2 linked regions of the Homo sapiens genome follow. The protein of the gene in region 1 interacts with the protein of each later gene in a pairwise test. Each region holds a gene or a part of one and is shown on either strand. Other genes may lie near its edges.

Region 1 (3,660 bases):
TTCAAAATGGGAAAACTGAGCTCAAAGAAAAACAAAATACTTCTTGTTGGTTTTCCTAGTATGCCATATTTTTAGAAGAAAAACAAGTAAAGTAGTACAGTCGCCTGCCAGGCTGCCTCCTCCCACTTCTTCCCCAGCTCCTCAGGGACTGTCACTCTCAGGCCTCCTCTGCAGCCTTGGCTTCTTGCTTACTTCAAGCATCTCACTGAATTGCCATCGGATGGGCTGAAATGAGCATTTTATCTTCACTTTCAGCCTTCTGGAAACCATAGTCCAGTGCTGGTTATCAAGCCATTTGAGTACCTAAGAGCAGTAATTTTTAAGCTCCTTGGATTTTAATCTCTTTGGTATGTCATGGAGCCCACAGAGACAGAGTAATCTGAGGGTCAACAGTCCTCTCTTGTAAAATCTAGGAAGTCTAGGGTTAGCCAAAATAAGCCAATGCCACACTGCTTAAACCACCACTGACTAGAGCACACTCAAGAAACTGTTGCTGGGTTTTTTAAATTTTGTTTTCTAATTCTCCGAGACCACTTTATTCACACTTGTCTTTGGCAAGGCTAGCTTTTTACCTGGTAGGACAGTTACTTGTGCAATTTTTATTGCATTCGTTCATTTAACAAACTATTATAGAATGCCTTCCATGTGCCAGGCATTGTGCTATGGAGATAACAGTAAACCAAGGCAGTCCCTAACTCCAAGGAGGTCACTGTCTTATCTCTCCTATCAGACTGTGAATTCCTTGAGGTCAGCCTGTGCTTTTAAAACAAGTGTCTGTCATAGTGGCTAGCAGATAGAAAGTATTTAATATATATTTATTTGTCAAATGAAAGAATAAATGAATGAAAAAATAAATACATTAAACCTTAGTTTCCTCCCGTCCTCCAAGTAACTATGGAGAAGCCTTCTGAGAAGTTCCCACGGTTTTTTTAGAAGTAAGAAATAGATGAGCCTTGGTTTCACAAAAAGGGGTATAGCTAAAGTGAAAGCCAGGATCAACAAAAGATGGTTTAAGTTTTACTACCGAGAATTCTGCAAATTTAAGGAGTCACCTAGTTTACATACTCTGTAACCAATTCAAGTCAAACAACCTTCTCCCTTTTAGAATGAGACAAAAAGAAAGAAAAGGGAGTGAAAATCTTCTATTTTAAGAAGCAAGACTCTTCACCCCATCCTGCAGACAATCCAGCACATCTCCTCTGCAACAGTGCTCATGTACATGGGCCACATCCAGGACTAGTTTCTGGATTTCAGTAAAATTAACTTTGGTAAACTTCTGACTCAGTTTAGTAACAGTTCTAGGGAAAAAAAAGAAATTAGAAATTAATTTCTTGGTTATCTGTCAAAATAAAATAGAATTTATAGAGTATTACTACAGTAGAAGTTTCAAAGAGAAATGACTGAAATTCCCTTGTTGTTTAAAAAGAAAAGGAAACATGTTTTAAGGCTTGATTCCAGCCATATCTTTCAAGGTGGTAGCTCTGTAAACTGTGAGCTGGCCCCACAAATGGTTTAGAAATAATTTATCTTTTCCTAAAACATGTCTTAAGAATTAAGGTAAATTATTTTTGCCATTCAACCCTTATGCTGAGCATTTGTATTGAGTGGACATAAAACTTTAAAAGGATAAACAATTAAGAAATGGAAAATTCCATGAAAATGAGAACCATTTTTTACTGGGGTAAAAAATACTTCTGAGAATCCAGGAAAGGAGGCGTATGTGCAAATCAATGAAATGGGACAAGAAAGTGGAGCAGATTAAACATTTCAGGCATACCAGTGTGCCAAGAGAGTAATGTGGCCAAAAAAGAAGTAAGAAATAAAAATTCTGGTTTCCTCTGCATATTTCATTAAATTTTAAGAGTTGTCTTTGTAAAACCATTGCTCCTAGAGAAAATAGTGTTACTCCTGCTTCTGATAAAGATGGATCTTCTCTATAAATTTAGACCACTTAGCTTTCACTTATGGATAGCAAATGATAAGGGTATTATAATACTATCTCAATTTCTATTTTATTACTAAGATAAATTTTTTTAAAGTAGGTCATAAATTAATCTTTCAATTTCTAATTGAGTTGGAGGGTAGTTAAGGCATAAATCTGACTTCTTACAAGAAGAAATTTCAGTCTTTAGAACTAATTCTATTACTAAAAACTTCATTCTAGATTTCCATTGTCTACAATATGCTTTAACGTGTTATTTAACCAAACAGCAATCAAATAAACTCTGAATATATATACTTACTACTATTCGATTAGCAGCTCAGATATTTTCATATACTAGAAATGTTTTATCATAAAAGAGTTGATGAGTACTTTAAAGAAGTTATATAATTTAAAATGTTCTTTTCTCCTGACACTAGATTCTAATATTATTGCCTCAAAGGAATATTTTTATGGGAAGCAATAAATGCTATAAAGAGCCTTATAGAAGATTAAGAAACACAATTAATATAAAGAATTTCTTGTTAAGGCAAAAGTTTTAAATGACACTCAGTGAAGGCTGACTTATTTTGTAGAAGAGCTAGAAAAATATGGTCTAGTGATGAGGTATAATTTGATGGCAGGCCAGAACTTAAGTGTCTTAAAGAACAGGTAAATAACATAAACTTTAAAAGTCTTTTCTATGTATTATCTCAGCTAGGCTTTAGTAAGTGTTAAACTGACTTATCCGTTAGCTTCCTTCTGATCCTAAGAGTTCATGGTTCTAATCCCATTAGCCCTCATCAAAGGGGTCACAAAGGGGTCTTCATTCTCTAAAACAGCAACAATTAAAAAAACGAACCCAAATTGCAAAATGGTAGTTCTGTAGCTCTCACCCTCTTCCCTAGATAGAACTTGAACTTACATGGCTTGGAAAGTTCGGGTCCCAAAATTTTTCATTACTGCACATGCATGTTGATTTAACAAGCTGCTTTCTCTTAATTCTTTTGTAACTGTTGCTGCCTAGATGTAGAGGAAACAAAATGTCATGAAAGCATATACTAACATTTTCTTTACAAGCTCTAATATTTAGAAAAACAACAAGTATAGGTAAAATGAAATTCCATAAAATATGTTTTTTACTAAAAATTATAAATGTCATACATTATCGCAGAATATTATTGACTCATTTATTCTTTTGGGTTAGTTTATATGCATCTGTGCCAGACAAATTTACTCAAAGTACCTTGAAACAAAAACATAACTTTTATACTGGGGATCATAAATGAACAACTGTACCTTTAAACAGCTTAAAGACAAATTGAAGCCTGCTAATTTCTTAAGTGTCTTCTCAGTTACAAAAAATACGATTGTATCACGGCTTGACACTGAGAGTAGTCAGTTCTCAGGAAATTTTTGTTATAGGACTGCTGGTAGCAAGTAGTTAATGGTGGATATTATTCTACCTCTCTAAACCTAAAAAAAATTTTCTTCTCTAAACCTCTTTCCTAGTTTGTTAAAGGACAAAAATACTTACACCTCAAATTTGTTCTAAGGTTTAAAAAAACAGTAAGTATAAAGCATTTATCATAGTTCTTCATTTTTTCTCTCTCCTCTGCTCCTCCTTTTCTCCGTTTTCTTTCACTTACTCCTTCCCATTTATAGCACCCTCTCTTTCTCTCTTTCTGTCTGTCTGTCTTTCCTTCTTTATCCCATCAAACTCACTTCCTTAATAATAA
Region 2 (2,811 bases), on another chromosome or scaffold:
AGGCTGGTCTTGAATTTCTGGCCTCAAGCGATCCTCCTTCCTCAGCCTCCCAAAGTGCAGGGGTTACAGGTGTGAGGCACTGCACCAGCCCCACATTACAAAGCTTTTAGAGCCAGGCCAGGAAGGTTCAAGGTTGTAGTACAACATGATCATGCTTGTGAAAAGCCACTGCAGTCCAGCCTGGACAACACAGCAAGACCTGCTTCTCTTAAAAACAAACAAACAAAAAACACCTCTTGGCTGGGCATGGTGGCTCATGCTTGTAATCCCAGCACTTTGGGAGGCTGAAGCAGGTGGATCACTTGAGGTCAGGAGTTCAAGAACAGCCTGGCCAACATGGTGAAACCCTATCTCTACTAAAAATACAAAAATTAGCTGGGCTTTACATAAAACCGGGCAGGGCATGGTGGCTCACATCTGTAATCACAGCTCAGTCTCCTGGGGACTACATGCCTGTAGTCGCAGCTACTCAGGAGGCTGAGGCAGGAGAATTGCTTAAACCCAGAGGTGGAGGTTGCAGTGAGCTGAGATCACACCACTGCACTCCAGCTTGGGTGACAGAGCAAGACTCCGTCTTAAAAAACAAAACAAAAAAACAAACAAAAAAACACCTCTTAAAAAGTTAATTTTACTAAGCCTTTTAAAGGAATAAGACAGCCTTCAGAAGTCAGGCACTGTGGCTCATCTGTAATCCCAGCGTTCTGGGAGGCTGAGGCAGGCAGATCACCTGAGGTCAGGAGTTTGAGACAGCCTGGCCAACATGGTGAAACCCTGTCTCTACTAAAAATACAAAAATTAGCCAGGTGTGGTGGTGCATGCCTGTAGTCCCAGCTCGGAGGCTGAGGCAGGAGAATCGCTTGAACCCCGGAAGTGGAGGTTGCAGTGAGCCGAGAATGTGCCAGGTGACACAGCTAGACTAGACTCCGTCTCAAAAAAAAAAAAATAGCTTTCAGAAAACAGCGTTACTCAAAATGCCTTGTGTTTAAATTTTAAAACTTTATTGGCTGACGGAAAACTGCCATACTTTCTTCCCACTACCATCCTGCTATTCCTGAATTCAATTTGCAAAAGAAGCATAGACCAAGAAGGGTTCCTTAGGTGCTCAACAGAATTTAAAGTGCGACAGATATGTTTACAATTAGAAAATAAAACTTCTCTCTCAGTTTAAAGAAATTTTTTTCTTTGTACATATTTTAAAGTACAGTTGTGTTTTCTTTTTAGGAACTGTGGAAAATGCCTATTTATAATGTCTTTGGAAGGATACCCCATTTTGTAATTGTGGTCTTCCAGATTCTTCTGGGTTAACATGTTGAGATGTATTCCACGGTACTCGCATTTCTGATAAATCCATATTGTCTCGAAGAGACTTCCTTTCAGCTTTCTGACATCTTATCAAGAATTAGTAGAGGGGCAAGAATTCTTGCCCTGTTAGTTTCCACAATGCAGCCATTTAACACCATCTCATCCAAAATGATGTGTACTTTATCCAAATTAAACATTATCTACGGTTATATTAAGGAAATTAGTTTAAAGTTAAAAATTATTAACATTCAGTAAAAATTTATGGCTTAACCTAGAGTGTTCCCAGTGTAAATTAGCCTAAGCATGAGGTTTTTTGTACAAAATTTCTGAAATTAAATTTAAAACTGGCATCCATATTAGAAATTGTTACCTTCATATATACATACCTAGTTTCACCTTGGTTAAGCTAACAGGATAAGTAGGGATAAAAATGAAACAGCTACATTTTTTAACCAAAGGGATAGGGGGTCTACTAAGTGCTAGAGAACACAGCAGTGTCATGTGGCAAGAGAATGACCTTAACTCAAAAATAGTGTTGTCTTCCCAGACAATAATAGTAACAGTAGCAACGATTTGTTGAATACTCCCGTTCCAGACAGTGTGTTGAGTTTCAGCCCTCTACAAATCTCTGATGTATGTTGTTACATATTATCCTCAGTTTACCCAGGATCAAACAGGTTCAAAGCATAGTCCAAGGTCACATGGCTAGTAAATGCCAGGTTTGAATTTAAACCCAAAGCTTGGGCTTGACTGCTCTGCTTATAGGCTCCTCAGGAGGGGCTAGACACCTCCCTCCTCAGCCCCCAAACCTCCACCCCAAAATAAATGCCTTGTACCTTCAGTTTTCTTCTCTGTCAGACAGACTGATGTAAAAATAACTATGAGGAGAAAATGAATGAAGAAGGCAGGGCATAATAAAATTTCTGGATTTCAAGACAGTATCTCTTACAAATGGGTAGTTCTAAGAAGTCATTTGAGAATGATGGAGCCACTTTGGCTTACAGGTGTTCTTACTGGGAAGTTAGTATGGGGCATGGGGAAAGAAGAAAATATTGTTAGACTATGATGTCTAGCAAACCACAAAGAACTAAATACTTCCCTCAAGAATCCCTTCAACTGAATACCTAACTTTTCTTTGGTGAAAGAAGGGGAACTGGAATGAGATGATGACAATGAATGTTTCTCAGTTTTACACCTTAATATCTGAAGTTCTCTGTCTACTTAAAGAGCATGATCCTGGTCTGTTACAAAAACAAAAACAGTTGACAGATTGTTTCAAATAAACTTCATTCAACAAATAGGTAATTAAATGCACTAGCGGAGTTCAAAATTAAATCTTTGTAAAGTGAATTGTTCCCTTTGATTTTTTTCAACCAGACCAGATATTCAAAGTCTACACTGTATTTGCTTAGTGAAGTGCAACTACACAGAATAGGACAAATGGTGAATGACTTTAAAGTTTTTATTAGGCTCTGTGTGAATATCTCATTAAGCTCTGTGCAAATAGTC

The links. The genes of interacting proteins can lie anywhere in the genome.
Region 2: the proteins of AFP (region 1) and AP4S1 interact in a two-hybrid assay, tested with the Homo sapiens proteins (one large-scale study listed by BioGRID and IntAct).

What each region holds. Positions count from the first base shown.
Region 1 is NC_000004.12:73,442,631-73,446,290, reverse strand, and holds part of AFP (alpha-fetoprotein isoform 1 precursor), read right to left. Parts: intron 2,945-3,660; coding exon 2,847-2,944; intron 1,299-2,846; coding exon 1,169-1,298; intron 1-1,168. UniProt on the Homo sapiens protein: Binds copper, nickel, and fatty acids as well as, and bilirubin less well than, serum albumin. Only a small percentage (less than 2%) of the human AFP shows estrogen-binding properties.
Region 2 is NC_000014.9:31,091,598-31,094,408, reverse strand, and holds part of AP4S1 (AP-4 complex subunit sigma-1), read right to left. Parts: intron 1,503-2,811; coding exon 1,374-1,502; 3' UTR 1-1,373. UniProt on the Homo sapiens protein: Component of the adaptor protein complex 4 (AP-4). Adaptor protein complexes are vesicle coat components involved both in vesicle formation and cargo selection. They control the vesicular transport of proteins in different trafficking pathways.